6 separate regions of the Homo sapiens genome follow, and all the other regions are reported to be linked to region 6. Evidence: microRNA targets listed by miRTarBase, many of them from high-throughput screens and not tested one by one. Region 6 holds a microRNA gene; each other region holds the end of a gene's coding sequence.

Evidence for each region. Region 6 holds the annotated microRNA hsa-miR-19b-3p (UGUGCAAAUCCAUGCAAAACUGA, at 2,832-2,854, opposite strand). A microRNA usually pairs through its seed, bases 2 to 8, with sites in the 3' UTR of a target mRNA and lowers its output. Matches are read on the target gene's strand: a 7mer-m8 pairs with bases 2 to 8, a 7mer-A1 pairs with bases 2 to 7 and ends in A, and an 8mer does both.
Region 1: miRTarBase lists ARID4B as a target of hsa-miR-19b-3p. Seed matches in the 3' UTR shown: 7mer-m8 at 4,497-4,503.
Region 2: the mRNA of PRKN is a reported target of hsa-miR-19b-3p. Seed matches in the 3' UTR shown: 8mer at 3,148-3,155.
Region 3: the mRNA of FBXO8 is a reported target of hsa-miR-19b-3p. Seed matches in the 3' UTR shown: 8mer at 504-511.
Region 4: the mRNA of ATF2 is a reported target of hsa-miR-19b-3p. Seed matches in the 3' UTR shown: 8mer at 904-911.
Region 5: miRTarBase lists CBY1 as a target of hsa-miR-19b-3p. Seed matches in the 3' UTR shown: 7mer-m8 at 888-894.

What each region holds. Positions count from the first base shown.
Region 1 is chr1:235,164,001-235,169,076 of GRCh38, forward strand. ARID4B (AT-rich interaction domain 4B) reads right to left here. Exons shown (of 24, transcript NM_016374.6): 24 at 2,902-4,652. The coding sequence ends at 4,525. Among named protein-coding and RNA genes, the nearest start is that of RBM34, 5.3 kb to the left of the region's middle.
Region 2 is chr6:161,345,637-161,350,712 of GRCh38, reverse strand. PRKN (parkin RBR E3 ubiquitin protein ligase) reads left to right here. Exons shown (of 12, transcript NM_004562.3): 12 at 502-3,296. The coding sequence ends at 614. Among named protein-coding and RNA genes, the nearest start is that of AGPAT4, 74 kb to the right of the region's middle.
Region 3 is chr4:174,232,623-174,237,698 of GRCh38, reverse strand. FBXO8 (F-box protein 8) reads left to right here. Exons shown (of 6, transcript NM_012180.3): 6 at 100-1,041. The coding sequence ends at 287. Among named protein-coding and RNA genes, the nearest start is that of LINC02268, 15 kb to the right of the region's middle.
Region 4 is chr2:175,069,925-175,075,000 of GRCh38, reverse strand. ATF2 (activating transcription factor 2) reads left to right here. Exons shown (of 14, transcript NM_001880.4): 14 at 166-2,742. The coding sequence ends at 392. Among named protein-coding and RNA genes, the nearest start is that of CHN1, 67 kb to the right of the region's middle. RefSeq lists a silencer at 3,654-3,854.
Region 5 is chr22:38,672,926-38,678,001 of GRCh38, forward strand. CBY1 (chibby 1, beta catenin antagonist) reads left to right here. Exons shown (of 5, transcript NM_015373.4): 5 at 234-925. The coding sequence ends at 311. TOMM22-DT (TOMM22 divergent transcript) reads right to left here. Exons shown (of 2, transcript XR_007068097.1): 2 at 2,591-3,564. Among named protein-coding and RNA genes, the nearest start is that of TOMM22-DT, 6.4 kb to the right of the region's middle.
Region 6 is chrX:134,166,852-134,171,927 of GRCh38, forward strand. MIR19B2 (microRNA 19b-2) reads right to left here and starts at 2,915; the gene lies at 2,820-2,915. It overlaps MIR106AHG (miR-106a-363 cluster host gene), which reads right to left. Exons shown (of 2, transcript XR_007068340.1): 1 at 4,818-5,076; 2 at 2,299-3,501. It overlaps MIR363 (microRNA 363), which reads right to left and starts at 2,601; the gene lies at 2,527-2,601. MIR92A2 (microRNA 92a-2) reads right to left here and starts at 2,761; the gene lies at 2,687-2,761. It also overlaps MIR20B, MIR18B, MIR106A and the pseudogene TIMM8BP2.

The DNA.
Region 1 (5,076 bases), not on the chromosome of region 6:
GCCTGGGCAACAAGAGCGAAACTCCGTCTCAAAAAAACAAAAGGAGGCCGGGTGCGGTGGCTTACGCCTGTAATCCCAGCGCTTTGGGAGGCCGAGGTGGGTGGATCATCTGAGGTCAGAAGTTTGAGATCAGCCTGGCCAACATGGTGAAACCCCATCTCTACTAAAAATACAAAAATTAGCTAGGCATGGTGGCGGGCGCCTGTAATCCCAGCTAGTCGGGAGGCTGATGCAGGAGAACCACTTGAACCCGGGAGGCAGAGGTTGCAGTGAGCCAAGATGGCGCCATTATACTCCAGCCTGGGCGACAGAGCGAGATTCTGTCTAAAACAAAACAAAACAAACAAAAAAAAGAAATTAACAAGACCCCACTCTAAAGTTTTTTCAGTAGGAAAAAAAACGTTTTGGAGAACACCGTTAAGAAACGTATCATCTTGGGTGGGCGCGGTGGCTCATGCCTGTAATCCCAACACTTTGTGAGGTCAAGGCGGGCAGATTACGAGGTCAGGAGATCGAGACCATCCTGACTAACACGGTGAAACACCCCTCTCTACTAAAAATACAAAAAATTAGCTGGGTGCAGTGGCACGTGCCTGTAGTCCCAGCTACTCGGGAGGCTGAAGTAGGAGGATCACTTGAACCTGGGAGGCAGAAGTTGCAGTGAGCCAAGATTGCACCACTGCACTCCAGCCTGGGGCAACAGAGTGAGACTCCGTCTCAAAAAAAGAAAAAAAAGAAAAGAAAAACATACCATCTTAATATGTCAATTGTAAACTAACTTAGTAAAGTCTAGTTTAGGTGACCAGAAGTAGACATAGGTCAATTCTACTAATTCAATAAAATCCTCAAACCCTCTTAAGAAGGTAGGACGTAGAACAAGAAGGCAGGCGAGACAGAGAGGCACAAAGTCATAAATCTCGACTCCACCAAAATTTGGAATAATTCCCCTATTCAGCACTGTTTCTATAACATACTCAGTATGTGATATTAAGAGCTCCTCAAAAAACAGGGTTTCATGATTAGGTGGGATTGAAAACAGTAGGGTAAAGGAAGTTATTAGGCAGGTATCTCTTCACAGGCCTTCTCAAAGTTTTTAATATGCAAACACTGTGATTCTCTAAGAATGTGCTATACATAGATTTTCCAAAATATATTTGGTTATAAATTCCCAGAGCATTTCCAGGGACCAGTATTCTAGGAATTCATTTTGGGAAGCACCGTTCCACAGATTTAAAATATCATCCCTTAAACTAATTTTTGTGAAAATAAAGGGCCACCACAAAGATGCTTTAAAAAATATGTATTTAAGCTTTCTAGGCCTTAAAAAAGTTGATTTCCTTTCTCGTTTTTGTTTTTGTTTTTGTTTTTTTTTGAGACGGAGTTTCAATCTTGTTTCCCAGGCTGGAGTGCAATCTTGGCTCACTGCAACCTCCGCCTCCCAGGTTCAAGCGATTCTCCTGCCTCAGCCTCCCTAGTAGCTGGGATTACAGGCATGCGCCACCATGACCGGCTAATTTTGCATTTTTAGTAGAGACAGGGTTTCACCATGTTGGTCAGGCTGGTTTCGAACTCCTGACCTCAGGTGATCCACCCACCTCAACCTCCCAAAGTGCTGGGATTACAGGCATTAAGCCACCACGCCCGGCCTCTCTCTGTATTAAAGAAAGGTTTTCTTTTTTTTGAGGCGGAGTCTCGCTCTGTTGCCCAGGCTGGAGTGCAGTGGCACGATCTCGGCTTACTGCAAGCTCCGCCCCCCAGGTTCATGCCATTCTCCTGCCTCAACCTCTCGAGTAGCTGGGACTACAGGCGCCCACTACCACGCTTGGCTAATTTTTTTTTTGTATATTTAGTAGAGATACGGTTTCCCCATGTTGGCCAGGATGGTCTCGATCTCTTGACCTCGTGATCCGCCTGCCTCGGCCTCCCAAAGTGCTAGGATTACAGGCGTTGAGCCACTGCGCCCAGCCAAGAAAGGTTTTCTGTTGGTAGAAAGTCCAATAAGTGGGGCCAAAAAACTAGATTATAGATTTTTAGAAGTTTGCGGCAAAGCAGTGTTTCTCAACCCAGATGCATATTAATATCACTAGAGACCTTTAAAAATTAAAGATCAACATCCAGGTACTACCCCCAACCAATTAAATATAACTCCTTGGGAGTGGGGTGTGAGTACTGAATATACTTTTAACAATGTCCAGATGATTGCAATGTGCAATAGAACACACTGAAGTATAAAAGACCCGGAAAGGTCTAACTAAATTAAAAATTTTAAAAAGCCGCTGGTAATGGTTTCAAGTGTTAAATAAATTTTAAAAAAAACACTTAATTTTCAAATTTGGACAATTCTTCAAGTGATAAGAAAAATATTTAAATTCAGACTCAAGCAAAATAGTGTGTGCAAAGATAAAAGAATGCCTAGGCTGGGTGTGTTGGCTCCCGCCTGTAATCCCAGCACATTGGGAGGCCAAGGTGGGTGGATCACATGAGGTCAGGAGTTTGAGACCAGCCTGACCAGTACGGTGAAACCCCGTCTCTGCTAAAAATACAAAAATTAGCCAGGAGTGCTGGCAGATGTCTATAATCCCAGCTACTCGGAAGGCTGAAGCTGGAGAATTGCTTGAACCCGGGAGATAGAGGTTGCAGTGAGCTGGAGATTGCGCCACTGCACTCTAGCCTGGGTGACAGAGCAAGACTCCGTGTCCAAAAAAAAAAAAAAAAAAAAGAATGCCTAATACATTCCTTATCTGATTAATGGACTTTTAATTTTCATAGGTAGAATCTTCCTTTTTTTGTGTATCAATTAATCCCCTGTGATAATACGTGCTGGATATGTATGTTCCAGTCAGTCATCACATACAGAAATGAACTAAAATTACTAAATCTTTTAGAAACAAAAATCAAGGATTCACAAACTATGGCATTTTATTTCAGAGCCTTTGCTTACATTTGTACAATATATTACATAATTCTTCATTGTTTGCAGATCCTAATATATACTTTATAGCTTTTATTCTATAAGCTTTTTTCTTCAACATTTTGCTGTCAACAAATCTTTACAGTCCTGTACAAATTTGAATAACTTGAAACCATTTTCAACAAAATTAGTTACTGTAAGCACACACTACAAGACTGAAAATGCTTTTCTTAGAAAAGTTGAATGTAAAGGATTCTGACACGTTAGCATCTACAACAAAACGCATTGAAATTCCCACGTCGTATTGCCAGGAAACAAAGAAAACATGCCAGCCCCATCCAAAAAAAGTACACAGAACTACAATTAAAACAGTAAAACAGTCTGTACAATAAAGTACTGTGTATTAACAGTGCCAGATATTAAATAGCTTGAATGAACACATCCACAATATACAAATGTCTTACAAAGGTGAAGAATTAAATACAAGTGCCAAACAGAACAGAGATTGGAATCATACAACATAAAGTCAATACAAGTGAAAACAATTTTGCATTCATTTTGGATTTTATACAAGGCATTTAATTTTATAGGCCTACCACCCCCATTAGCTATTTATATTTAAAATAACCACCATCCTTTTGAGACAGTTCCTATCAACAATCTTGAACCATACTAATACATTACTTGTTCCTGAAGTCCTTTTGTTGTAGCTCATAATAAAATAAGCAATACAAATGAATTATCTGTATTTAAGGGAAAAGAAACATTTACAAGAAAACACAAAAATATAACTGTTATAATTCATTATGAATAAATATACACTTTGAACTGGCTAAGTACAATCTTTATACATTGTTTAAGATTTAATACAGTTTATTAGCCATTTTCTTTTTTCACACAATGTATATCAAAATTAAAAAAAAATACTGATTTATAGAAAAATGGCAAAGTACAGTAGTTCCATTCCAATTTGAAGGGCCATGAAAAGCCACTGCAAGACCTTTTAGCCTAATTCAAACCTGTAAACATGTTCAGTCTTTTTTAAAGAGAATCTTTAATATTTGGTTACCAGGATTGATGTCTAATATCCTGTTAACTGCAGGTTTTGAATTTATTACATGTGCTTGACTTATACAATTAAAGCCACCCTAAGGTGACTTGCTTTAAAAAACAATTACCTTGTACAAATGAAAATAGGTTCATATTTTTTCATAAATAAATGGAAAAATATCAAATGTTCCAGCTTTAACAAAATACAAGGGAATACATATACAGTAAGTTATCTTAACATGTTCTGACCCACCCCTTAACTATGCTTACTGTATTGTCTCTACAGGCAGTGAAAAGCCTCCATTTGCCACAGTGGAAGGCCTTCCAGTTACCAGACACACAATTCCCAGACAAGTTGGAAACAATTATTGCTTGAGGAAAAGCAGTTCATTGTACTTTTTCTTCATAAAAAAGTGCACTTAAGTGCCAAGTCAGCTTGTCAAGAAACAATTTTTAAATATAAAATAGTGCTTGTCTGATATTTTTTTGTGCCACTGTGCAGTATAAAAAAAAAGTGGCCCTCAACAGCCATTAAGTGCAAAGTGCTTTAGCAAGTCCTGCTGTCACCTGCACTCAACTGACATTCCATTTTGTGATGCGCTGGACATTGACGGTTCAGCTAAAGTTAACATAACAGCAGCTGTTATGGAACTGGATGAAGGTGAAGAGGAGGATGAGGATGTAGCAGCACCTAAGGAAAAGGGAGACCAAACCAAGAGCTTAATAAAAATTTATGTCTAACAATAGACAGAAAATACTAGTCCTCTGAACTAAAATTCCGCTATATTGTCCAAAATCATTTAGCTTACAACAACAGTGGTCAATTCTCACAGTTCTACGATGTGAAGAAAGGAAAAGCTAGTGTAGCTCAAGAAGCTAGACAGTGCCCAACTACAGAAGTAATGAAAAGGACAGACCAGGGAAGGCTCCTGCGTGGGTCAAAGAGGGAAAGAACTGTGCCTAGTCTACAAGACACAGAAATAAAATACAGAATACACTTTTTGTAACAGTGAAACAAGTATCAAAACAGGAAAAATCTGCAATCCATCCAAAAATCATTTGTCCCCTCCTAATCCCTCCATCTTTCTGTACTTAGGAGTTTTCTTGTACATGTA
Region 2 (5,076 bases), not on the chromosome of region 6:
ATATATTTTAAATATAAATATATAAAAATATATATATTTTAAATATAAATATATAAAAATATATATATTTTAAATATAAATATATAAAAATATATATATTTTAAATATAAATATATAAAAATATATTTATATATTTTAAATATAAATATATTAATATTTGAATATATTTAAATGAGGAATTGACCCCTATCTATGAAACATGAAGTGTTTGTCTCTAAATCCCCTTTCAGGAGAATAAAGTCAGATTTACAAATAAAATTTGTTCCCGACAAAAGTGACATGCTTCAATTTCATTCATTTCTTAATGAATATCATCACTTTAGAGCTGCCCTATTGTGCTTTATGAAGTTTTTCCCCTCAGTTAAGTTTCTCTCTGCCCTTGTATTGCTTGTGATTATTCGCTCAGAAAGTGATGTCTAGGCTAGCGTGCTGGTTTGGGAATGCGTGTTTTCCAGGTACTTGCTGCGAACCCACCACACCTTTGTTTTCTGCCCCCAACAGGAGGCTGCATGCACATGAAGTGTCCGCAGCCCCAGTGCAGGCTCGAGTGGTGCTGGAACTGTGGCTGCGAGTGGAACCGCGTCTGCATGGGGGACCACTGGTTCGACGTGTAGCCAGGGCGGCCGGGCGCCCCATCGCCACATCCTGGGGGAGCATACCCAGTGTCTACCTTCATTTTCTAATTCTCTTTTCAAACACACACACACACGCGCGCGCGCGCACACACACTCTTCAAGTTTTTTTCAAAGTCCAACTACAGCCAAATTGCAGAAGAAACTCCTGGATCCCTTTCACTATGTCCATGAAAAACAGCAGAGTAAAATTACAGAAGAAGCTCCTGAATCCCTTTCAGTTTGTCCACACAAGACAGCAGAGCCATCTGCGACACCACCAACAGGCGTTCTCAGCCTCCGGATGACACAAATACCAGAGCACAGATTCAAGTGCAATCCATGTATCTGTATGGGTCATTCTCACCTGAATTCGAGACAGGCAGAATCAGTAGCTGGAGAGAGAGTTCTCACATTTAATATCCTGCCTTTTACCTTCAGTAAACACCATGAAGATGCCATTGACAAGGTGTTTCTCTGTAAAATGAACTGCAGTGGGTTCTCCAAACTAGATTCATGGCTTTAACAGTAATGTTCTTATTTAAATTTTCAGAAAGCATCTATTCCCAAAGAACCCCAGGCAATAGTCAAAAACATTTGTTTATCCTTAAGAATTCCATCTATATAAATCGCATTAATGAAATACCAACTATGCGTAAATCAACTTGTCACAAAGTGAGAAATTATGAAAGTTAATTTGAATGTTGAATGTTTGAATTACAGGGAAGAAATCAAGTTAATGTACTTTCATTCCCTTTCATGATTTGCAACTTTAGAAAGAAATTGTTTTTCTGAAAGTATCACCAAAAAATCTATAGTTTGATTCTGAGTATTCATTTTGCAACTTGGAGATTTTGCTAATACATTTGGCTCCACTGTAAATTTAATAGATAAAGTGCCTATAAAGGAAACACGTTTAGAAATGATTTCAAAATGATATTCAATCTTAACAAAAGTGAACATTATTAAATCAGAATCTTTAAAGAGGAGCCTTTCCAGAACTACCAAAATGAAGACACGCCCGACTCTCTCCATCAGAAGGGTTTATACCCCTTTGGCACACCCTCTCTGTCCAATCTGCAAGTCCCAGGGAGCTCTGCATACCAGGGGTTCCCCAGGAGAGACCTTCTCTTAGGACAGTAAACTCACTAGAATATTCCTTATGTTGACATGGATTGGATTTCAGTTCAATCAAACTTTCAGCTTTTTTTTCAGCCATTCACAACACAATCAAAAGATTAACAACACTGCATGCGGCAAACCGCATGCTCTTACCCACACTACGCAGAAGAGAAAGTACAACCACTATCTTTTGTTCTACCTGTATTGTCTGACTTCTCAGGAAGATCGTGAACATAACTGAGGGCATGAGTCTCACTAGCACATGGAGGCCCTTTTGGATTTAGAGACTGTAAATTATTAAATCGGCAACAGGGCTTCTCTTTTTAGATGTAGCACTGAAATCCTTGCTGGAGGGAAGAGAGGGGATGAACTCAAGTTTTCCACATCCTGGGACACCTGTCCCTCTTTTCCTAACTGCCTAAGATAACCCATTTCTTCCAACCATCTGAGGACAGTCCCGTCGTCTCAGAGGCCCTGCACCGGGGAGAGACTGGGCTCTGCAGCAGCCACATCAGCATTCACAGCTTCATGTGGCTTCACTGTCTGAAAATCTACCGACTCCAACATGGCCCCACGGTGACAACAGACCTGTGACAGGAAGCCCAAAGCTCACATAGAAATGGTGGACAGATCAAAGTCTCTATAGTAAGGGAAAAAAAGAGAGGTGGCAGGCATGAGCCCCCTGCACCCAGTGGCTCGTGTCCATACTGAGTCCAGACCCTGATCAAGGCCTGACTTAGTGTCACTGGCAGTCCCACTAAATTACACTTCCTTACACTGGCCCGATGCGACAAATCAGGTGGCTCCCTTCTGTCACGTGGAGCACACAGTGTTTTCCATCATCCATAGCTTTCTTCCTGATGGTGTTTGCATTATTGCGCCTTCCCAATCTGCATGCTGCGTTGGGCTTGCGGTGCCTGAACAAGGTTTGCTCCCATGAGCTCAGGCACCCTAGGATCCCCTGTTAGACTATTAGGCTGTCCAGCATGGTCTCCTTTCCCTTCTTGGTGGTGGTCTTTTCCCTTTCCAGAATAGAACAGTGATTCTTAAAATAAGTTAGAGCAGGCCGGGCGCGGTGGCTCATGCCTGTAATCCCAGCACTTTGGGAGGCCGAGGTGGGTGGATCACGAGGTCAGGAGTTCAAGACCAGCCTGGCCAAGATGATGAAACCCCGTCTCTATTAAAAATACAAAAATTAGCTGGGCGTGGTGGCAGGCACCTGTAATCCCAGCTTCCTGGGAGGCTGAGGCAGGAGAATCACTTGAACCCGGGGGGCAGAGGTTGCAGTGAGCCGAGATCACGCCACTGAACTCCAGCCTGGGCAACAGAGTGAGACTCTGTCTCAAAAAAAAAAAAAAAACAAAAACAAAAAAGCAAGATCATCCACTACACATGAACATGAATCACAGTATTATTTGCACAGGAAGGGTGTAACAAAATATGAATGTATCAAAAAATAGAAATAAAGTCTTTGCAGAAAAAGTCTGTTTTTCTCTGAAGTGTGTTGAGATTATCTGACAACTCTAAGATTGTACTTAAATTGTCAATAAAGCATCAAAAGAGCTTCTGAGTCTGTCTTTGAAGATACATTTTCAATCAATGTGAAGGGTGACGGAGGGAATCACAGGCTGTATTACTCCATGGGCCTCACTTGTGGCCTGGAGGAATTACCTGGTGATGAAATAGCCATTCAGTGACCTGGAGGAATTACCTGGTGATGAAATAGCCATTCTCATATCAACTCCAAGCTCCAGATTACCGCTGGCTGTTTCTCTTTGTTAAATAAGAGTAGTTTTTTAAGGCTATCAAAATTTGAAAGGGTTCCAAAAAGCAAACCCTCATTCATAAAAATCTAAAAGTTACTTTCCTGCCTTACTAGCAAACTTTTCTAATAAAAGTGTTTAAAAGAGAAGTTTGCATTGGAAAAGACTATCTATAAGGATTTTTTCTCATGTCATTCTAGAAAATTTCAGTGACTTTGCATTGCTGTCAATGTGGGTGTGTTGACGCTGCATTTTCAAAGAACTGCTTTAGTGGCCATGCATTGTTTATTTCACAATGAGCCCATGGTGGAGGGATCTGGAATGGAACATTCCGAGATAGGGCCTGCACAACATTAGGCAAAGAAGTACACACTGAGGTCCTCTGGGTGCCAGTAGCCACAGGAAACACTCCGAGGATATGCAAAGGTCATGGGAATGGTGGCCCAGGTGATGATAGAGCAAAAGGGGGCAGAGAAAGTGGGTGAGCTCTGGGTGCCAGGGTGGGAACCCCACCTCCAAAACGCACCTGTGTAAGAGCTTCGGGGACAATAATAGCATGCACCACGTTAGGTTGTTGTCACAACTAATTAATTTGCCTAAAGCACCTGGAACAGTGTGTAGGATAAACGAAGCACTGTGTAATTGTTCGCTATTGTTAAAAAATGAACCAGTCATTGGAAACTACAGAATAAAATAACAGAAAACACAAAACTAATGCAAAGTGATGACAAGTGCCAGGAATATCTATTTGAGCACACAATTGTAGATTTAGGGATTCGTGTTAGAGGCGGGTGACTCATGTTGCATATACGTATATTGTATTATCTTCTAGACAGCCCCAGAAGTGTTCCTATAAAGGTAAGTTGCTATGCTAGCTGTGTGTGTGTGTGTATGTGTTTGTGTGTATGTATGTGTGTGTGTGTGCGCGCGCACGCTATATGTGCAGATGATGTCCAGGGTGTGAATTCGGGTTAATATTGTGAGTGGAAATGAATAAGCACAAATGCGAAATGCTTATGCAGAAGACAGCATTAGACATGGGGTAAAGCCGGCAATCCCTGTTTGGGTAGTGGACGTGCCTCATCTCCATCTGCCCTTACTAGAACATTTCTGATAGTGTGGAGAATATCGATGTTCAGTTTTTTTAAGAAAATCCTATTTCAAAACAACATTGAGCCTCTTTTCAATCCACTGTGAATAAACTGTCTCACACAAAATAAGAAATGTTGCTGTGGTTTAAATAACATGCCGAAAAAAAAAAAAAAAAGCAGGGAGTATTGTCCGGGAAGACCTGCTTGACCATACAGATGGGTGGCACTGGCTTGAGGGACCCACCATGCTCGCTGATCTCATCCTCAGCTGCATAGGACCAATTTTGTCACTATATCAAGAGGTGACTGGGCCCCAAAAGACTAACGCTAACCTAACTCTTAAGAGAACGGGGCATAAAAGCTAAAACGTCAGTTTACAGTTTATATTTACTATGAGAAGCTTCCCTCCTGATGCTTCATACGTGCTTTTCCATCTGGCTGGAGTCATTCTTTAAAACCCCTGCCTTCTCCTTTTGACAGGCCAACCTG
Region 3 (5,076 bases), not on the chromosome of region 6:
GATATCTTGAAATTATGAACATTTTTGCCTTATATAATGCCATTGGAATCATATTTTGTAAACCAACTAATAATTTGAACTGTTTCTTTTTCTTTCCAGATGCTGTCTATGTACTGTGCTACTCTTTGATTCTACTTTCCATTGACCTCACTAGCCCTCATGTGAAGAATAAAATGTCAAAAAGGGAATTTATTCGAAATACCCGTCGCGCTGCTCAAAATATTAGTGAAGATTTTGTAGGGCATCTTTATGACAATATCTACCTTATTGGCCATGTGGCTGCATAAAAAGCACAATTGCTAGGACTTCAGTTTTTACTTCAGACTAAAGCTACCCAAGGACTTAGCAGATATGGGGGTTACATCAGTGCTGGTCATTGTAGCCTGAGTATACAATCAAGCTTCAGTGTGCAACCTTTTTTTCTTTTGCCATTTTCTATTTTAGTAATTTCCTTGGGGAACTAAATAATTTTGCAGAATTTTTCCTAATTTTGTTTATCACGTTTTGCACAAAGCAGAGCCACTGTCTAACACAGCTGTTAACGAATGATAAACTGACATTATACTCTAAAAGATGGTGTATTTGTGCATTAGATTTGCCTGAAAAACTTTATCCATTTCCATTCTTTATACAAATACCATGTAATGTGTACATATTTAACTAAAGAGATTTATAGTCATAATTATTTTATTGTAAAGATTTTAACTAAAGTTTTTCCTTTTCTCTCAAACTGAGTTCTGAAATTTATTTGATTCTGATCTGAAACTATTGTCTTCGTAAAAGTTAGATCTGACTTCAGACAGAAACCAATACCAGCTTCCTTTTCCTTTAAACTTTGAAGAGTGTTGATTTGTTACTATATTACTATGCAAAACTGGCAGTTATTTTTATAATATAAATTTATAATTTGATTTTTTATTTTAAAAACTGGGTTAATCAAGTCTCGGTAAGTCCTTTAAACCATTTAGGATTTTTAAAACATCAAAATTTATGATTTACATTCATAGGAATAAAATAAAATATTATTAGAACTCTGGTAAATGTTTGCTTGCTTATATGTGGTGTGATTATGCAAACTTTACTATTTTTGTAATCTTGATGATCCCCGTTCAGAGTCCATTGAGAAAGACATATTGTGAAGAACAGTAAACACTCTTTACTCATTGGTTCAGTGAATGTCTATCCAGGGCTTTACATGTGTTAACATTGTGCGAGGTACTAGACATGGGCCCTGCTCTCACAGATAATACATAACTGGGTACTGAGAAGAAAAAATCTGCTGAATGGAGAGCAACTATATGAAGTATATCTTAATTAACAATTATTTAATAGTTAAAATATGCAGCATTAGAATGATAGAGAACAGTGTAGTTATATGGTAAGTTAAAAGTGACCTCCAAGTAAAAAGCATAACCTTAGGAATGAAATAGTATGTGATGGGTTGAGCTACTAGTTTAGAGGAGGGAGTTGAGGGAGGTAAAAACTCCTTACTAGAGGTATTGAATCCTGGCTTCCTTCCAGATCTGACCCTTAGTCAAAAGTGGTTGTCAATATTACAACTGGAATGTTGTACTACAGATTTTTCAAGGACAAGACATACGATAATCAAATTTTGAATGTCTAAGGGACTTTTAGACTGATAGTAAATAATTTCTAAGATTCTGAAGCAAATATCCAAATCATTTTTGCATGTGCACAATTTTGAATTCCATGACAATTCTAATTTTTAACTTCAAAACTGCTTTATTACATTTCAAAAGACAAAGGGTGGTGATAACTATTATTTACTATCATGCCTAGTTTTCAGTGATTAACACTTTGCCCTCTCCCTCTGTCTACCTCCTTCTGTCTTTCCTTCTTTGTTTTTCTTCATACCTGTCTCTTACCATCCAGTTCTCTCTGCTTCTGTTTTAGCTTATATCTTTTCCTTTTTTTGTATCCTCAATTTCCTAACTTTTTTTCTTTTTCCTATTTTATTTTTCTACCCTGACTTGATTATAAATGTGGATTGGCAATATTTCCTTTTCCAACATTTTCTTAGGAATATTTCAAACACATAGAAAAGTGGGGCCAGGCACAGTGGCTCATGCCTGTAATCCCAGCACTTTGGGAGGCCAAGGTGGGAGGTTTGCTTGAACCCAGGAGTTTCAGACCAGCCTGGGCAACATGGCAAGACCACGTTTCTACTTAAAACTAAAAAATTAGCCAGGCGTGGTGGTACATACCTGTCCGTAGTCCTAGCTACTCAGGAGGCTGAGGCAGGAGGATGGCCTGAGCCCAGGAGTTCGAGATTGCAGTGAGCTGTGATTGCCACTGCACTCCAGCCTAGGCAACAGTGAGACCCTGTGTCAATAAAATTTAAAAATAAAATAAATTTTAAAATAGAAAAGTGGAATTATTTTGCAGAGAATGCCTACTCACCACCTAGATTCTACAATTAAAATTTTACTGTATTCACTAAATCATGTTTATCTATTCCTCTATCCATCAATTATTTTGATACAGCTAAAAATAAGTTTGAGACGTAACTTCCTTCCTAAAGACTTAATTAAACTTGCAAATCATTAGCTAGAGATCATTTTTTTAGCTTTTTTTTTTTTTTTTTTTTTTGAGACAGAGTCTCCCTCTGCTGCCCAGGCTGGAGTCCAGTGGTGCGATCTTGGCTCACTGCAACTTCCGCCTCCCAGGTTCAAGCGATTCTCCTGCCTCAGCCTCCCAAGCAGCTGGGACTGCAGGCACGTGCCACCACGCCCAGCTAATTTTTTGTATTATTAATAGAGATGGGGTTTCACCGTGTTAACCAGGCCAGGCACAGTGGCTCAAGCCTGTAATTCCAGCACTTTGGGAGGCCAAGGTGGGAGAACTGCTTGAGCCCAGGAGTTTCAGACCAGCCTGGGCAACATAGTAAGACCACATTTCTTGCTTAACCAGGATGGTCTCAATCTCCTGACCTTATGGGCCACCCATCTCGGCCTCCCAAAGTGTTGGAATTACAGGCATGAGCCACCGTGCCAGGCCAGCTTTTTTGTTTGAGGTAAAATTTATGTGTACTAATCAATGAGTCTCCGCAAATGCATGTATACCTGGGCAAAGCAAACCCAGTTCAAAATATACAACTTTACAGCCTATTTACAGATAATATTGTACTATATAACATGAAACATCGAAAACTTACAACCATGTAAGCCTCTTTACCCTATCACCCCATCCATTATCTTATTAAATGTATTACGTATATGTTATAAACTCCACAATATAATGTTATAATTTTCTTTGAACAGACATATATATTTTAAATTTAAAAAAATGCTCTTTTATATTTACCCAAATTATCATTTCTGATGCTCTATTTCTTCCTGAAAAATCCAAGTTTCCTTGTAGCATCTTTCCTTTCAAACTGAAAAACTTTAACATCTATAGTTCAGATCTGCTGGAAATTAAGTATGACAAATTTTAAAATCTGAAAATGTCTTTATTTTGTTTTCCTTCCTGAGGAATATTTTTGCTGAATACATAATTCTAGATTAACTTCCCCCCACCCCACGTTTGGCATTTTAAGGATATTGTTCCAGTTTCCTGACCTCCATTGTTTCCAATGAGAAGAGTAGTGTTCAAATAGTTTTTCCCTTGTGAACAAATGTAATTTTCCTCTGAGTGCTTTATTTCATCAAATATTGTTTTTCAATCTCATTTTCTCTTCTCCTCCTGGGACTGCATTTATGAATATGCTAGACCTTTCGATATTGTCTCACAGGTTTTTGAAGCTCTTGGTTTTTCATCCCTTTTTTTCTCTTTTTTCTTCAATTGGATTTTTTTCACTTGATTTGTATAGTCCAACTCACTGACTCTTCTGTACTCATTTTCTTTTAAGCCCATTCAGTGAACTTTTATTCTAATTATTGTATGTTTTAGTTCTAGAAATTCTATTTAGTTTTTATAATTTATATTTCTGTGCTGAGATTATCTTTTCATTCATGACTGGTGTATTTTTCCTTACACCTTTTAGCATAGTTATAATAGCTAAGATACTTGATGGCTCATTTCAGTATTCTATTTCAATATTAAATACTTGTCTATTTTAATATTTAGTATTTTAATATTCAATATTTCAGTATTGGATATTTCAATATTCAATTTTCAAAATTCTTATTTTAATGTATGAATATATTCAATATTCATTTCAATATTCTGGATCATTTCATTGTCAGTCTTCTCTAATTTTCTTTTCTTTCGAGAATGGGTTACATTTTCCTGTTTCTTCATATGTAGAGTAATTTAGATTGTGTCTGGAACATGGTAAGTAAAATGTTGCAGAAACCCTGGATTTTTATTTGTTTCTCTAAAGGCTTCTTTTTTTTTTTTTTTTTTTTTTTTTTTAAAGCAGCTAGTTAACTTGGCCAAACTGCCAGCTGCAAGCTCTGGTTCCCCTAGAGTTCGTGGCAGCTCAGATTTTAGTTCAGCTTTTTAACCTGGCTATTGTACTTGAAATCTCTTCTGTACATGCATGCGTGGGAGACCAGCCAGCTTTAGCAGAGTCATACACAGAATTTAGGGCTCTCTCTGTGGTTCTTTTCGTATCAGGATTTCCCTCTGCGTTTTCCAGCAGTTGCCATTACCCCAAACGTGTCCTAGTGTTCTTCAAGTCAATACAACTGTAGTCTCCACATGATGCAGAGTGAGGAGTTCCTCAGGCTATGAACTATAAAAATAGGAAACTCACCCAGTGCTATTTCTTCTAAGTATTCACTCCTCTGTAGGATCAACCTGCTTTTGGTTGTTTTCTATTACTTTCAGTTAGTTAATTTTTAAATATTTTGTCCAGAGTTTGTAATTTCATATGTTGGCAGGTTGGTCTGAAAGAACTTCTTGACCATCACTTGAAGTGGAACCCTCTCCAATTGGGTAGTATTCTTTTTCTACTTCCTATGATTACTGAGTAGGGATTTGTTCCTGATTATTTTTAAAACTAGGTGAGTAGAAATTTTTAACATGTTCTATCTATGAAAAACCTTAATTATAAACATTTAGTAAATGTTTACCAAATTAGCAATTCAGTGTTTCCTAGTTGGTGTCCTA
Region 4 (5,076 bases), not on the chromosome of region 6:
GGTAAAATTGCCTACTTCATGACCTATATCAATTGCTGTAATACCAACTTGTCTAATCAGTTTTGTAAGATACTTTCTAACTTTTTACTCTGTGTATTGCCTCAGCATACTGGTGCATTCTTACCGATTTTAGGAAAATGAATAATTTTTCTTTTTTCCACCCAGCTGCTGATAAAGATGATAGTTCAGAAGACATTTCAGTGCCGAGTAGTCCACATACAGAAGCTATACAGCATAGTTCGGTCAGCACATCCAATGGAGTCAGTTCAACCTCCAAGGCAGAAGCTGTAGCCACTTCAGTCCTCACCCAGATGGCGGACCAGAGTACAGAGCCTGCTCTTTCACAGATCGTTATGGCTCCTTCCTCCCAGTCACAGCCCTCAGGAAGTTGATTAAAAACCTGCAGTACAACAGTTTTAGATACTCATTAGTGACTTCAAAGGGAAATCAAGGAAAGACCAGTTTCCATTTATGCGAAATCTGTGGTTGTAAATTTTTTTTTTTTACTTGAAATTAAATTTGGCTCTAAAGTTGGTGTAGCAGCAGTTGATCAGACTGAAAAACGGTTTTTAGTCTCTGGAAAAAGACTGATTTTGCTTTTTTTATAAATATTATTAGATTTATTAATTTTTCTGTGCTCAATGTGTAAATTGTATTATAATTCATTGTGATTTATTTCACTTTTAATTTGCTGGTGTTTTAATAAATGGGGGTGTTACTGAATCTTTCTTCCCACTTCCATTTCTTTTGACCACCCCTTAACCCTCAACTGTGACGGTAGTAGTATTATCATTTATACCAAAGTTTTGCATAGTCCCTGTTGACTTTGTAATGTTAACGGAGTCATAAAAGCACTAGGCAAGAGAAAGATAGAAATTTGCTTTTAATCTTTTTGCCTTTTATTTTGCACATTATGCAAAAGGAAAAACATTAAAGAACACTTTTTTTTAAGTGAGTGAAAACATGGTAAAGACATACAGTGCTTTTATGCACATTGTTAAGCTAAATCAAGGTCATTTATAATCATTTTCCTTTTTTATTTAAGATTTTAAGTAAACAAATTTTAGAATTTTCAGCATTTCAAAAATGATTTTATTTTTCAAGTCTTAAATTCAATATTTTACACCTATGTTTTGAGGCTAAAAATATGAAATTATATAATGTATGATACAGGGTTATCAAATATCTAATAATTTTTGAAATTAGCTCTTGTTTTTGGTTTTTTTGTTGTTGTTTTTACAGATTTCAGGTTACAAACTGCAAAGTTTATGCATAATTAAGTATGGTATGGTTGCCAGAAAAGCCTAAAATTACTACTTAGAAAATTTAAGACTGTTTACCCCCATTGTCTTGTACTTGCGAGCTAACTTGTACTATTCTTGTGAAAGCACTGTCATCTTTTAGTAGCAAATTTTGATAATGTTTCTCGTGGAAAAAAAAATCAGTATCTATCTTTAGAACAATGTAATTATAATGTGGGAAGTGTGCATGAATGAGAGAGAGTGTGTGTGTATCTGTGTGTGTGTGCGCGTGTGTGTGTGTCTTTTAATAGTTTATGCCAGCAATCTTTGCTTGAATGTTTAACGATGCCTTCAGTGTGATGCTGGCCAATAGATGATTGCAGTTTAAAATGTCATTATTGTGCAGGCTTGGATAACTAACATTCCATGATGTAGCTTGTTTCTGATGAGATGATTGTAGGTACATTTTTCTCATTATCCAATCATCTGTGGGATACTTAGTTTTCTAATGTGCCATTATCTATTTTTATTCTGCAGTTATGTTCAAAATACAGTACATATTTTAAAATAGAATAAATTGTTAAACATAAAATTTTAAAAGTAGTAGATGTGCGTAAGAAAACTTTGTAAAATAGTTATGAGTCCTACCCAGTAGCAACTTCTGGCATTCAAGCAGGATTCCACTATGTAAATATCTGTAATGCATTTATAATAAGTTGTGTAGTTTGTCCTGCATCCATACTACACTATTTGCTAAAGTCTCAGTGCCATCTCCTAATGAGACTGACATTTTAAAAGTCTGTATGGAATATCCTTGATAATTCAAGGAAATATCCCTCCTGCCTAAGTTCCAAACTGGGAAACATTCAAATTATATAAATGACATTTCAGGACTTTAAGTATGAAGATAATGGGAATTTTATTGTTTTGCTTTTTAAAATGAGAGCATTTTTATTTGATAATTTTTTTTAAATTTTTAATTTTTAACTAATTTCATTATTTTAAAGTAATCAGTTTTTCAAATCATGATTTTGATATCATTATTCTAAGGAGTTATCTCAAAGGCACAAAATATGAATTCTGCAAGAAGGCTATTTTTTATTGTAGTTTGAATGGGTTAGGAAAAGCCTCAATTTTTCACTCTTAAGTCCTTCAGTACATTTTTCTTTCATCTTATTACTTATGCAAGTTAAGGTTCTTTGGTAACAGAATTCTTGCAACTGTAAAATAAAACTACATAGATGTAAGAAGTCATGTAAACGGTTAACAAGCTTACCAAGGTTAGCAAAACTTTCATTGTAAATCAGTCTGTACTGAGCAAATAAAAATCATTATTAGTTGTATAAACACAAATTCCATTTTGACTTTCAGGATGTCATACTACTTCTGTACCTAGCATTTTCAGTCCTTATATTTGCAATGTTACACAAACTGTACTATTTTCTTTTATGTGCAGTTTGCATGAGTAAACCATCAGAGAATAAATTCTATCTTTAAATTATGTTCATAATTTGCTTGTTCTCTTACCTTTCCTTCATAAAGTAACATCACCAGATAATGATTTTTTTTTTCCTTCAGGACATTTATTAACTGAGAAGAACCTGAGATTCTTTCTAGTTCTGTGATAAAATTCATTCATTCCTTTTAACTGCAGGGTACTTGGGCCTTATTCCTCTCTGCACTCACTTTGCATCCCATTTATATATAATGAATTATATAATTATATAATTCATATGTAATTCCCCACACCCCTGAACTTTAGTCACAGATCCACCTGCCTTTGGCATCCCTTGGTGATGGCCTGACAAAACATCTGAAACATAACATGTCCAACACTGAACTGCTAAACAGCTCACCCTACCCTCAAACATTTCTCCCACAAACTTTCACAAGTCAATTGATGACAATACAATTCTTCAAGTTGCTTAAGCTAGAACAACCTTGTTGTCACCCTTGATTTTCTTTCTCTCAGCCCACATCCAGTCCGTCAAGAAATACTATTTGCTTTCCCCTCAAAACAATCCAGAATTCAACCACATATCACCATTTATACCACTTTCATCCTAATCTGTGCCTTTATGATTCCTCATCCAGTTACTGTACTTGCTTCATAAATGTCTTTTCACTTTCACCCCTGCCCACCACAGCCCATCCTCAATACAGCAGCCAGAGCGATGCTTTTAAAACTTTTGTCAGGTTACAGCACTGCTCTGCCTAGAATCCTGGAGTGGCTCCCCTGTTTCACTCAGAACTTGAAGACGGCCCACAAAGCCCAGAGATGATTTATTCCATATCCCATCCCATTGTGTCTCTGACCTCATCTGCCACATTGTTTTGTCAGTGAACATTTGAGTGCTACTAGGTGCCAGAGGTTGCTCTAAGCACTTGAAGTAACACAATGGCCAAAAGCAAAAATCTCTGCCTTTGTGGAGGCCACGTTCTAAAGATGGTGGGAGGATGTTGGGAAATGCAATCAACAAGTCAGTTATGTGTTATATTAGAAGTGGTGCAAGCTAAGTGAAGAAGCAGACTTACACCAGTTTTGCTGGAGAGTGTGTAGAGTGACCGTTTTAGTCATATCTGTTAGATATGACCAATCTGAGGAGATGCATGGCTATTTTTTAACAAACATTCTACCAATGTGCTTAAGGTAGATTATGTGATATAGATAAAAAGTTTCATGAAGGCAAGCTGATGTATTTCTATAACAGGTTAACAAATGATCAAACAGGTTAACAAAAGGTCAAACTCATGTTAGTCTTGACTTCAGAGGACAGGAAAGATAATCTCGTCTATGGTGTGTGCTTACTATTAAATGTAGTTTTGCTAATTCTACATCTATGAGACTATAGGATATGATGGATGACCATATTTGAGATTATCATGAGAGAATCCTATTTATTCCAAGGCCCTCATCTTAGATAGACATGAACAAACACAGACACCCAAAATACCTAGAGAACACAGTTATCAAAGCAAATGAACTTTTCCTGTAATTGTCTCACATGGCTTAAAACAACAGCAAGTCTTTCCAGATTATCAGTAACTATATATTGAAATGTGGGTGTTCATAGAGTTAATAGTTTGGTATTAAGATCCTAGACAGCTAGCATCCTTCTGTGTGGAAAAAAAATCTCAAAGTTTAGAATATTTCTAAAGTCCTTTCTGAAGAAATAAATGGTTCTACCATTTAAATATAAATGATGAGTTGCAAGTTACATACATTGCCGTAGAATAGGTGCCATCAGTGAAAATGTTTCCAAAATTAAAAGACTTAATCTGAAATAGCAAAGGCCATGTGGCATTGGAACCTACAATGGAAGAAAAAGCATGCATAGTTTTCTATTGTAGTCCAAATCAAAGGTTAATTGTAAAAATATCAAATATGTCACAGCAATCAAACCAGAAGGGCTCTGTTAATGGGCAAGTGGCTTGCATCATTTTTCTTCAAATGTACATGCAAGTTCTTCTAGTGGCTTTCCAAGAAGAGAAGACACCTCATTTTCATTAGTGTTGCTAGTACACCCTTGTCATGGTCACAGTGCCTTCCCTTGTCTCTGTGTTGCATTAGATTTTACATGTGAGACATCATTTCTTGAGACATAAATTTTTGAACAAAACAATTGTATTGGTGTTATCAGGCTTTATCTCAGTTATTTGGGAAAATATTTCTTACTCTGAATCTCAAATTTTAACTATGGCAGTTATGTCAAGAATTGGCTTTAGTCATTTTGCAGTATATTTTGCTTTCTAGGAAAGTATTAATAGAAAAAAACAGAATATTCCCCCAAAACAGCTTCTTTTAAAGTTATTTTTCCTTAATAATTTTTAAAAG
Region 5 (5,076 bases), not on the chromosome of region 6:
CTCGTGGGTGACAGCGTGCTGACAGAGTGGACTGTGAATATTCTTCAAGTACTTGTGGTCCTGGGTCATCAGGGGTTGCATTCTACCCAGTTACAGAGGGTTTCCCATCGAGGAAGCCAGCAGCATCAGAGAAGTGGCAGGGGGCCTTTCCTCCGTGTGTAGGGCCGGCCTTGCTAACCCGAAACATTTCCTAGAAATGTGCTGCTTGCTAACAGCCGCTGCTTCACTTTCAGCTTTCAGAGTCCACTGCTGAATCCCACTTAATGGAGAAGGAACTGGATGAACTGAGGATCAGCCGGAAGAGAAAATGAAGACCCCAGAGACATTTATTGGGGAGTAGGATGTGGCTGAGTGCTTTTTTTTTGGCCAGACTAGCGGATTCAGTCCTGGAAGAGAGTATCATATAATGAGACCCACAGGCACTGGCACCCTTGGGTTGGCAATAGAAGGTGACATGGAATGGAGAAAACCAAGATTCCAGATGGGGATAGTAACTAGAAGGTGCTTCAGATGCACTGCCTGCGGGTGCCAGTCTGAAAACCAGACCGCACAGAGGCCTGGGGCTGCTGATGAGCTTTTTGGTGCTCTCCACACACAAGCTCGCAAACACACATGTCCCAGAATAGCTCTGTTGGGTTGTGTTGGGAGAAGCGGCTGGAGTTCATTCTCTCACCCCCTTATGTTGGTGTTTGGCGTGTGACAGCAGTTCTACAGAGCTCTGTGTTGGGGTCATGGATGAGCGGCTCTCTTGGCTCTTAAAGGCAGGCCTCTCTCTTCTTGCCTTTAAAGAATCCTCCTTCCTCACACCTGGCCTCCTCTGGCTTCAGCTTCTCAGCAGCAAGCACCAGCCTTCCACAACAACACTATATTTTTATGCTACTTTCCTGTTTGCACTACTACTTTTTTATTAAACGATGTTAAATAATCTCTCTGTGACCAAAGTGACTAAAAAGAGAACCATGAGTTTCTCAAGAAGTAAATGGAGCTGGCCAGGCATGGTGGCTCACACCTGTAATCCCAGCACTTTGGGAGGCTGAGGTGGGCAGATCACCTGAGGTCAGGAGTTCGAGACCAGCCTGGCCAATAGAGTGAAACCTCGTCTCTACTAAAAATACAAAAATTAGCCAGGCGTGGTGGTGGGCACCTGTAGTCCCAGCTACTTGAGAGGCTGAGACAGGAGAATCGCTTGAACCCAGGAGGCAGAAGTTGCAGTGAGCCGAGATCATACCATTGTACTCCAGCCTGGGCGACAAGAGCGAGACTCCGTCTCCAAAAAAAAAGAATTAAATGGAGCCTGGCCAGGTGTGGTGGCACACACCTGTAATCCTAGCACTAGCACTTTGGGAGGCTGAGGCGGGCTGATTGCTTTAGCTCAGGAGTTCAAGACCAGCCTGGCAATAGCGAAACAAAATACAAAAAAAAAAAAAATTAGCTGGGCGTGGTGGTGCACACCTGTAGTCCCAGTCTCTCAGGAGGCTGAGATGGGAGGATCACTTTGAGCCCAGGGAGGTTGAGGCTGCAGTGAGCTGTGATTGCTCCACTGCACCCCAGTCTGGGTGACAGAGTAAGACCCTGTCTCAAAAAAAAAAAAAAAAAAAAAGTAACTGGAGCCTGGAGTCTAAGCCTCTGTTGTTCCATCAAAAGACAGAATTGGCCGGACGTGGTGGTTCACGCCTGTAATCCCAGCACGTTGGGAGGCTGAGGTGGGTGGATCGTCTGAGGTCAGGAGTTTGAGACCAGCCTGGCCAACATGGCAAAACCCCGTCTCTACTAAAAATACAAAAGAAAATTAGCTGGGTGTGGTAACACATGCCTGTAGTCCCAGCTACTTGGGAGGCTGAGGCAGGAGAATCACTTGAACCCGGGAGGCGGCCACTGCACTCCAGCCTGGGCGACAGAGCAAGACTCTGTCTCAAAAAAAAAAAAAAAAAAAAAAAGAATGTTTAGTGTGTGGGGAACTGTCACTCTTGTAGGAGAGCATTCCAGCTTTCCTGGGCATTGGCAGAGGCTGATGCCAAACAGAAACAGTCTCTCTGCTCAAAATTCGCCTGCCCTCCTGCTTCATGGTGTTGGGACTGGCCAGGACCTGGCAGGAACCTAATGGTTGGTGTGAGAATTTGTGCCGTAGGCAGTATGAGCTGGACTTTTCTGGCAAGAGGAGGGAATCCAGCTCCTGAAGTCAAGCGGGAAGGAACTGAGGGGGTGGAGGTGGGGGCATGGTGCCCAGGGCTTTAGACTAGGGACAGGCTACCATGGTTAGCCACTTCTGAATGCCCGGTACATGCCTGGCACCAGGCTCCCTTTGCTCTCACTGTCTCATTTCCCCTTCAGCTCAGCCCTGTGTAGCAGGGGCTATCGGCACATCCATCTGCAGAGAAGGAAACTCTGGGAGGTTCAGACACTGATCTAGGATCACACAGTAGAAGTGCTGGAGCTTGATTCACACAGCCCGCTATGAAAGAGAGGAGCTGGGGGCGGCCTCAAAGGGAGCTGCTGTCTGCAGTCCATCCTTACGGCCAGCAAAGCACTCTATGGGGGGGATGGATCGAAGGGCAGATTTGTAGCTCCAACCCATAACCTGACTTTCTGATACAGGAGAGAATGTTTAATACAGAAGAAATTGGAAAAGGATCCACATATATGCAAGGTGTAAATCTTCAGGTGCAGATAATAGGAGCAGTGGAGTTTGCTTATGCCTCGGCCGGTATCACTGGGGACCCTTTATTAATATTCCTGATGCTGGACACCTCCCGATGCTGGACACCTCATTTGCATGACACTCTTTCAAGTTTGTTATCCCCATCACCATGTTTTAGATGAGAAAACCAACCCAGCACAGTGACACAGTGGAAGGGTGGGGCCAGGACTGAAGCCTTGGGCATCATGTGGGCATATTTCGTTGTCACAATGGTGTGGATCCCCCCATGACCAGCACCATTAGGACCTTTGGGGGTTGCAGCCAGGAACCCTAAACATCCTGTGGTAGGAGGGGCAGTTCTGCAGTGAAGAAGGAATTTCTTTTGAGTGAGCGGGGAAGCAAAAGCCATTGTTATGAGCAGATAAATGCTATGATCCAACTGCACTTTTAAAAGGCGCTGGGCGTGGTGGCCCATATCTGTAATCCCAGCACTGTGGGAAGCTGAGGTGGGTAGATTGCTTGAGCTTAACAGTTTGAGACCATCCTGGGCAAAATGGTGAAACTCCATCTCTACCAAAAATACAAAAAGATTAACTGGGTGTGGTGGTGTGCACCTGTGGTCCCAGCTACTCAGGAGGCAGTGGTGGGAGGATTGCTTGAGTCCAAGAAGCAGAGGTTGCAGTGAGGTGAGATCGTGCCATTGCACTCCAGCCTGCTGACAGAGTCAGACCCCGTATCAATCAATCAATCAATAAAAATAAAAGGATCCTTCTGGTGGCTTTGTGGTGAGAACAGACTGAAGGAGGCCAGGCCCATCCCAGGGAGGCCACAGTAGATGAGGTGAGGTGGTCTGATTCTGGATAACACTTGAAGGTAGAGCCTCCCCGTGATGGCTGGGAATCAGGGACAGTCCCATGAATGAAAGTCTTTAGGAGAAAAGGAAAAAAAATCACCCATATATCGCCACACTAACCCTGTTTGCTTCAGCGAGGTGTTTTGTTTTGTTTTTCTTGAGACATTATATATTTTCAAATCTAAATAGAGCCAGATATATCCTTCAGGTTCTGGCTAAAATTCTTCATCCTCAAAGACTTTATTGGCCAGGCACAGTGGCTCACGCCTGTAATCCCAGCATTTCAGGAGGTCAAGGAAGGAGGATTGGGCTGAGCCCAGGAGTTTGAGACCAGCCAGGGCAACATACTGAGACACCATCTCTACAAAAAAAAAATTTAAGTTAGCCAGGCGTGGTGACACACACTTGTAGTCCCAGCTACTTTGGAGGCCGAGGTGAGAGGATCCCTTAACCTGGGAGATCGAGGCTGCAGTAAGCCAAGATTGCACCACTGTATCCTCCAGCCTGTGTGACAGGGCAAGACACCGTCTCTTTAAAAAAAATTTAAAAAGGGCCTGGCGCGGTGCCTCATGCCTCTAATCCCAGCACTTTGGGAGGCCGAGGCGGGCGGATCACCTGAGGTCAGGAGTTTGAGACCAGCCTGGCCGACATGGCAAAAACCTGTCTCTACTAAAAATACAAAAATTAGCCTGGCATAATGGCAGGCACCTAATCTCAGCTATTTGGGAGGCTGAGGCAGGAGAATCATGTGAACCTGGGAGGTGGAGGTTGCAGTGAGCCGAGACTGCACCAGTGCCCTCCAGCCTGGGCAAAGGAGCAAGCCTCCCATCTCAAAAAAAAAAAAAAAAGAAAGAAAAGAAAAGAAGATTCTGTGGACGAGAGGGAGGGCATGAGTGCAGGATTAGAGGCAGTAATGGCAGGAAGACCGAGTTTGAGTCCTAGCAAGGGGAACTGCGCAGACAACAGGACAGGCATGGGCTAATGTGCACTTTCTAATGAGAGGGGCTTATAGTTTTTATAGGATTCTCGAAGGGAGCCATGCCCCCACCCCCCAATTAAGAGCTACTATATCACATGTTTCTAATTCTGACAGGACAGAAACAAGCAAGGTGGAAATCTTGGGCTCGAGAGATGGGGAGTAGAGGAGCTAAGAGCCCAGCGTTCTTGAACCTGCCTCTCCCATCCGATGGCAGTCACCTGGGCTCCTAGCATGGGGCATTGCCACTCACTTGCTGACACCCTTGTCCACTGATGCGACCTCCATCCTGGCACCAGTCTCACCATGTCATCTCTGCTGCTGAGCCTTCCTCTTGAAGACTTCAGCAATTCCTCAGCCCTCTGGTTTCCCTCTCTCCCCAATCTTTAAATGTCTGATTCCACAGGACTCTGTCTTTTTTTTTTGTTTCTGAGACAGAGTCTGGCTCTGTTGCCAGGCTGGAGTGCAGTGGCGTGATCTCGGCTCACTGCAACCTCCAACTCCCGGGTTTAAGCAATTCTCCTGCCTCAGCCTCCTGAGGAGCTGGGACTACAGGCGCCTGCCACCACATCTGGCTAATTTTTGTGTTTTTAGTAGAGATGGGGTTTC
Region 6 (5,076 bases):
AGCTGTGTAGACCACTTCATTGACACCACTCTTGCCATCACCAGTCGGTTTGCCCAGATTGTACAGAAAGGAGGGCAGTAGGCCATCCCCCAGGAGAATGACAGAAGCAAAGGACTTATTATTAAGCAGACTTAAGGGCCAGTGGGGGAAGGCTGTCAACCCATTGTCAGATCAGCATCAGGCTGTTATCAAGTCTGTTGGTCCTAAAAAGTAAAAGATGAAATGTTCAAAAAAAAAAAAAAAAGAATTATTGGATTAGTCTAACTTGAGCAAATATAGAATCAGAATTTTTGAAGCTAGAAAGGGTCCTCAGATCATCAAGTTCGGCCCTAACTTTAGGTGAGGGAATTGACTCTAGTGGGCAGAGTGGCCTACCCTAAGGAACACAGCTCCTCCACACAAGCCTATTAAAAGTGGAAACTGCAATAACTGACTGCATACTAGCCACGTTAGGTAAAGCACCAGTGAACCACTAGGACAATAAATTTGTATTATTAAAGTGGAGGTTTGGTGGTGTTAAGGATTACAACAAATAAGCTTTAATCCCCTCTTTTACTGAGCTACTTTATTAAAGGGCGGGAGACCCTTTTCTTTGCTGCCACATCAAACTTAACTATGATTAGGCACCAACAACGTAGTCAGCACTAGACAACACAGGAAATACCTGTAGTTATTTATGTTTGTATAATTGCCTCAAGCATTAGTCACTTTTAAAAAATTACACACACATACTTAATACTGGACGACAGAATTTACTACCCTAAGTCTCTTTTCATTAAGATTTCACTTCATCACTAACAATTAAAATCCATCCCCCCAGCCGCCACCACCAGAGAACTTACTTAACCCACATATCCTTGAGGTAGACCAATGTTATCACTGTATTTCCCCTAATGAGGAAATTGAAGCCTTAGGCAACTAGCTCAAGATTAAAATGCAATTCAGAGAGAGTTCCTCTTACTGATTAAAATGGACTGATGTTATGAGGAAAAATCAAAAGGGTTTCAAAATTAGAAAATTCCATGGCACCAGGAAGTAAGAATGACACATACTGATACCATCTTTTAGTTTGGCAGCACCTTTTTGATGAGAACTAAATGTTCATGTTGGCAGACAGTAAAACTACCACAAGCCTCGTTTCTTCATTTGCCAAATACATGATGTTAAAGATTAACATTAAAATATGAAACATAGAACTGGAAAGCAAGCCAGTCCCTGCTTCGAGTTCTTTTAATTTTATGAAGTTTAAAATAAACAACTTCCTTTGTTAACTTTGTCCTAGAAGCTGTCGTTAGCTGTTTTCGAGCAGTGGTTCTGCAAGTATGGTGTCTTGACCAGCAGCATCAGCTCCTAGGGAAAGGTTAGAAATGCAATTCCTTACCTGTAATGCCAGCACTTTGGGAGGCCAAGGTGGGTGGATCTCTTGAGGTCAGGAGTTCGAGACCAGCCTGACCAACATGGTGAAACCCCGTCTCTACTAAAAGTACAGAATTAGCCAAGCGTGGTGGCGCACGCCTGTAATCCCAGCTACTCAGGAGGCTGAGGCAGGAGAATCACTTCAACCCGGAAGGTGGAGGTTGTGGTGAATGAGAGATCGGGCCATTGCACTCCAGTCTGGGCAACAAGAGCGAAACTCCGTCTCAAAAAGAAAAAAATAAAGAAATGCAATTCCTTAGGCCCCATCCAGACCTATTGAATGAATCTCTGGAGATGGGGTTGGCTGGCTGTGTCTTAGTAAGTGCTAAAGTTTTAAGAACCACTAGAGGATCCAAATAACTTTTGGTGTTCAGTCTCAAACCACTAATTAGCTGCGCATGAGAAATTTCTGCTTTAGGTTAGTCACCCTATGGAGCCCCCGAACCCTAAATATTAACAGTAGGCCCACATCCAGGTTTCCATCTGCTAGACTCCAAAGCAAGGCAGCAGCCATCCCTCTCAGTAGCCCTGCCACCAAATCCTCTTCTCCGAGAACCCCAAAACAGAGTTTGATTGACAAGTTCATTCTTCTCTCCTGTCAGACCTCAAAATGTGCCCAGTTCCTTAAAGGTATGTGTCCCATTGGTTTACAACTCTTCATTCCCTTCCTAAGAATGAGCACGTGTACTAAAACAAAATTAGTACATGTCATCCAAATATTGTCAGGGTAATAAAATTCCTAAAATTAGGCATCTTGGTGCTTTATGTAGATGCAAACTTGAAAAGCAGCTATGTCCAAGTTTTCCTTTAGGATCCTCCCAAGAGATATTTTACAAACTCCTCTAGCATTGCTAATTATTTTTTTTAAAAAAAAAAGAGTCATTTTTTCAGATCTATAAATTTCATTTATTTTGAGGTTCATTCACATTCAGTAACAATCTGATCATTCACCAAAGTTCCAAAACACATACTTTATAAATTAGCTATCATAGTTTTTAGAAATCCAAATATATTTCAAATTATTTTTTAATAGCAGCAACTAGAGAAAGGATTTTTTACCATCTAGCTTACTGTAGCGCTGATCAGGAATGTCGCCAACAAAGGTCCTGCGGTTTACAGATGGATACCGTGCAATTTTTCTCCTATGATACTCATCAAAATTGCATCGTGATCCACCCGACAACAGCAAAACAGATCATTTTACAATGACTAAATATCAGAACTTACGGCTTTTAAAAGTTAAAATAAGAAGACGATAAAAATCCTCCTTTCTTCCACAGGCCGGGACAAGTGCAATACTTTATATAGAACACAAGTAATGCAACAAATCCCCACCCAGGGATGAATGGGCATGAGTGCTGGAGATACGCATGAAGGTGTGTTCACACAGACGTAGGAAGCACACATTATCACAATCAGTTTTGCATGGATTTGCACAGCCACATATACATATATACGCTGAAATGCAAACCTGCAAAACTAATTGTAAGTAGCAATGTCTTTGAATATTCTCTCCATCAACAAGAGATTTGTTATCCAAGAGTACTGGAAGTGCCCATACTACAGTAGAGTCATGCCAAAACTACCTGCACTATGAGCACTTTGGTACTACTAGGACCCAATCTTATCCTCTGTACACAACTGTACACTGCACAGTCCCCACCATCTGTTCCCAACAAACAATAAAAAGGCAAAAAACAAACCACTGAAATGTGTCCTATTCAAATTACTACTCAAGGCATACTTTTAAAATGCTGTATATTAGGCAGCCTGTGCCAGAAGGGGCATTTAGGGCAGTAGATTCTAAGCTGCTTCACTAACTGCACTAGATGCACCTTAACACAAGAGACACATTATAAGAAGCAGCTCAAAAGCATCAACTACTTAATTATGCACAAACTACAGTTCTCAGTAGCCATTGACTAAATCACCATGGTAATGTAAGAAGTGCTTACATTGCAGTAGATCTCAAAAAGCTACCTGCACTGTAAGCACTTTTACATGGCCAAGGCCTATTCCTGTAGCAAAATTTTAAGTCTTCCAGGAGCTCTTCTTTTCCGTCCTCACAGATCCATGCAGACTCACCTGGTTAAAACAACAAAACAAACACACACATATTAGAAACTAAACAAGTAAACTACTAGTTAATATTCCTGAAACAGGCTTTCCTTTGGCTTACAGAGTCTAAGCTAGGTTTTGTGGTTTCAACCAAATCCTGAGAAATATTAATAATCTCAATTATTTACACAGAATTGAACACGAATAACACTGGCAACTGCAAAAAGTCCAATTCTTATGTATAAGCAGATTTTGGACTCCCCCTCTCCATCTAAGAAAATTTGATATCTGCATCTCAGTAATTTGCAGGCACATTCTATCCACCCTGATTTTATAAGAGGAGGACCTAGAGAAAGGAGCATGTAAAACCCAGGATGAGTATTCGAGTCTTCAGATCATTCAGAGCTTTTGGGCTCCATACGGAAAGTGACTGTTAGATTAAATGAATATTCCCAGCCCCCACCCCATTAATAGAAAATGAGAGAAATTTTAGAGCTGGTTTAAGAAACACAGCCTTACAGTCTTCACATAATGCACAGATGGCTGAGAGATGTCACATTTTGATCTATTTCAAAGGGCTCTACTTCTGTTTAAACATTTATGGACCCATTTTCTCCATTAAACCAAAGTAGGCAGATTAGCTCTTCTTCCCTTCATGTCATTATCTTCCATAAGAAAACCTTCTCCCATTTCCAAGTGCTTATTTTACCTAAGAACATACAGCAAGGAAGTGAGCCTCTATGTGAAAAAGGCTCACAGGGTCCCCTATCTCTTCCATGATGGGGTAACTTTTGTTTAAAAGAAAAACAAAAACGTTTGGGACAGAATCTGTAATACGTTAAACGAGTGAGGGAATTTTAAATGTTGAACTTTCGTCACGATATCTTATGCCACTAAATGAGTCTTTAGAAGTCTTTACAAACTAAACTGATTTATAAAACTTATACATCAATCTGGAATCAATTTTCTATTAGGGAAGAATGGATTTAGTATAGAAATGAGAAAAATAACATTTTTCCCCTTAAATTGGGTTTCTACACCTGTGAAGATTTCTTTTCCATTAAAAAAAAAATACTCCAAACTTGACTCAAAATGCATAGTATTTGCCAACCCAACCTGGCCAAACTGAGCCCCACAGCCATCAGACAGGGCGCCCTTCTAGTTACTACCTTTTGCTAATTAGCGGTTCATCTGGCATCCCTCGCGCACGCTGGGCAGTCACTCTCCAATCCCCTTAAATTGCAAATAATAATAATAATAATAAGGAAAAGAAAGAAAGAAGTCCTTCCCTGTACGCCTTTGTGGCTCCCTTTTGCCTCTTCCCGCGTCTCTCACACCCTTACCTAATGCTCCCGTTGAAGTCCGCGAGCAGCCCGCGCGTCCAGGGTGTGCTCCAGCTGCTCACACCACGCGCTCCAGTCCTCGTGCAGCCTCAGCCGCCGCCGAAATTAAAGAGAAAGAAACAAAGCATCATGGGAAACGGAGTTCTCCATTCAAAGCACCAAAAACGCGCCAAGCCCACGCCTCCCTCCCCCTCCATTCCCGGGTTGGTGGGATAGAAGCCAAGAGGGAGGGGAGTCCCTTTTTTCCCTCCACGTGCAC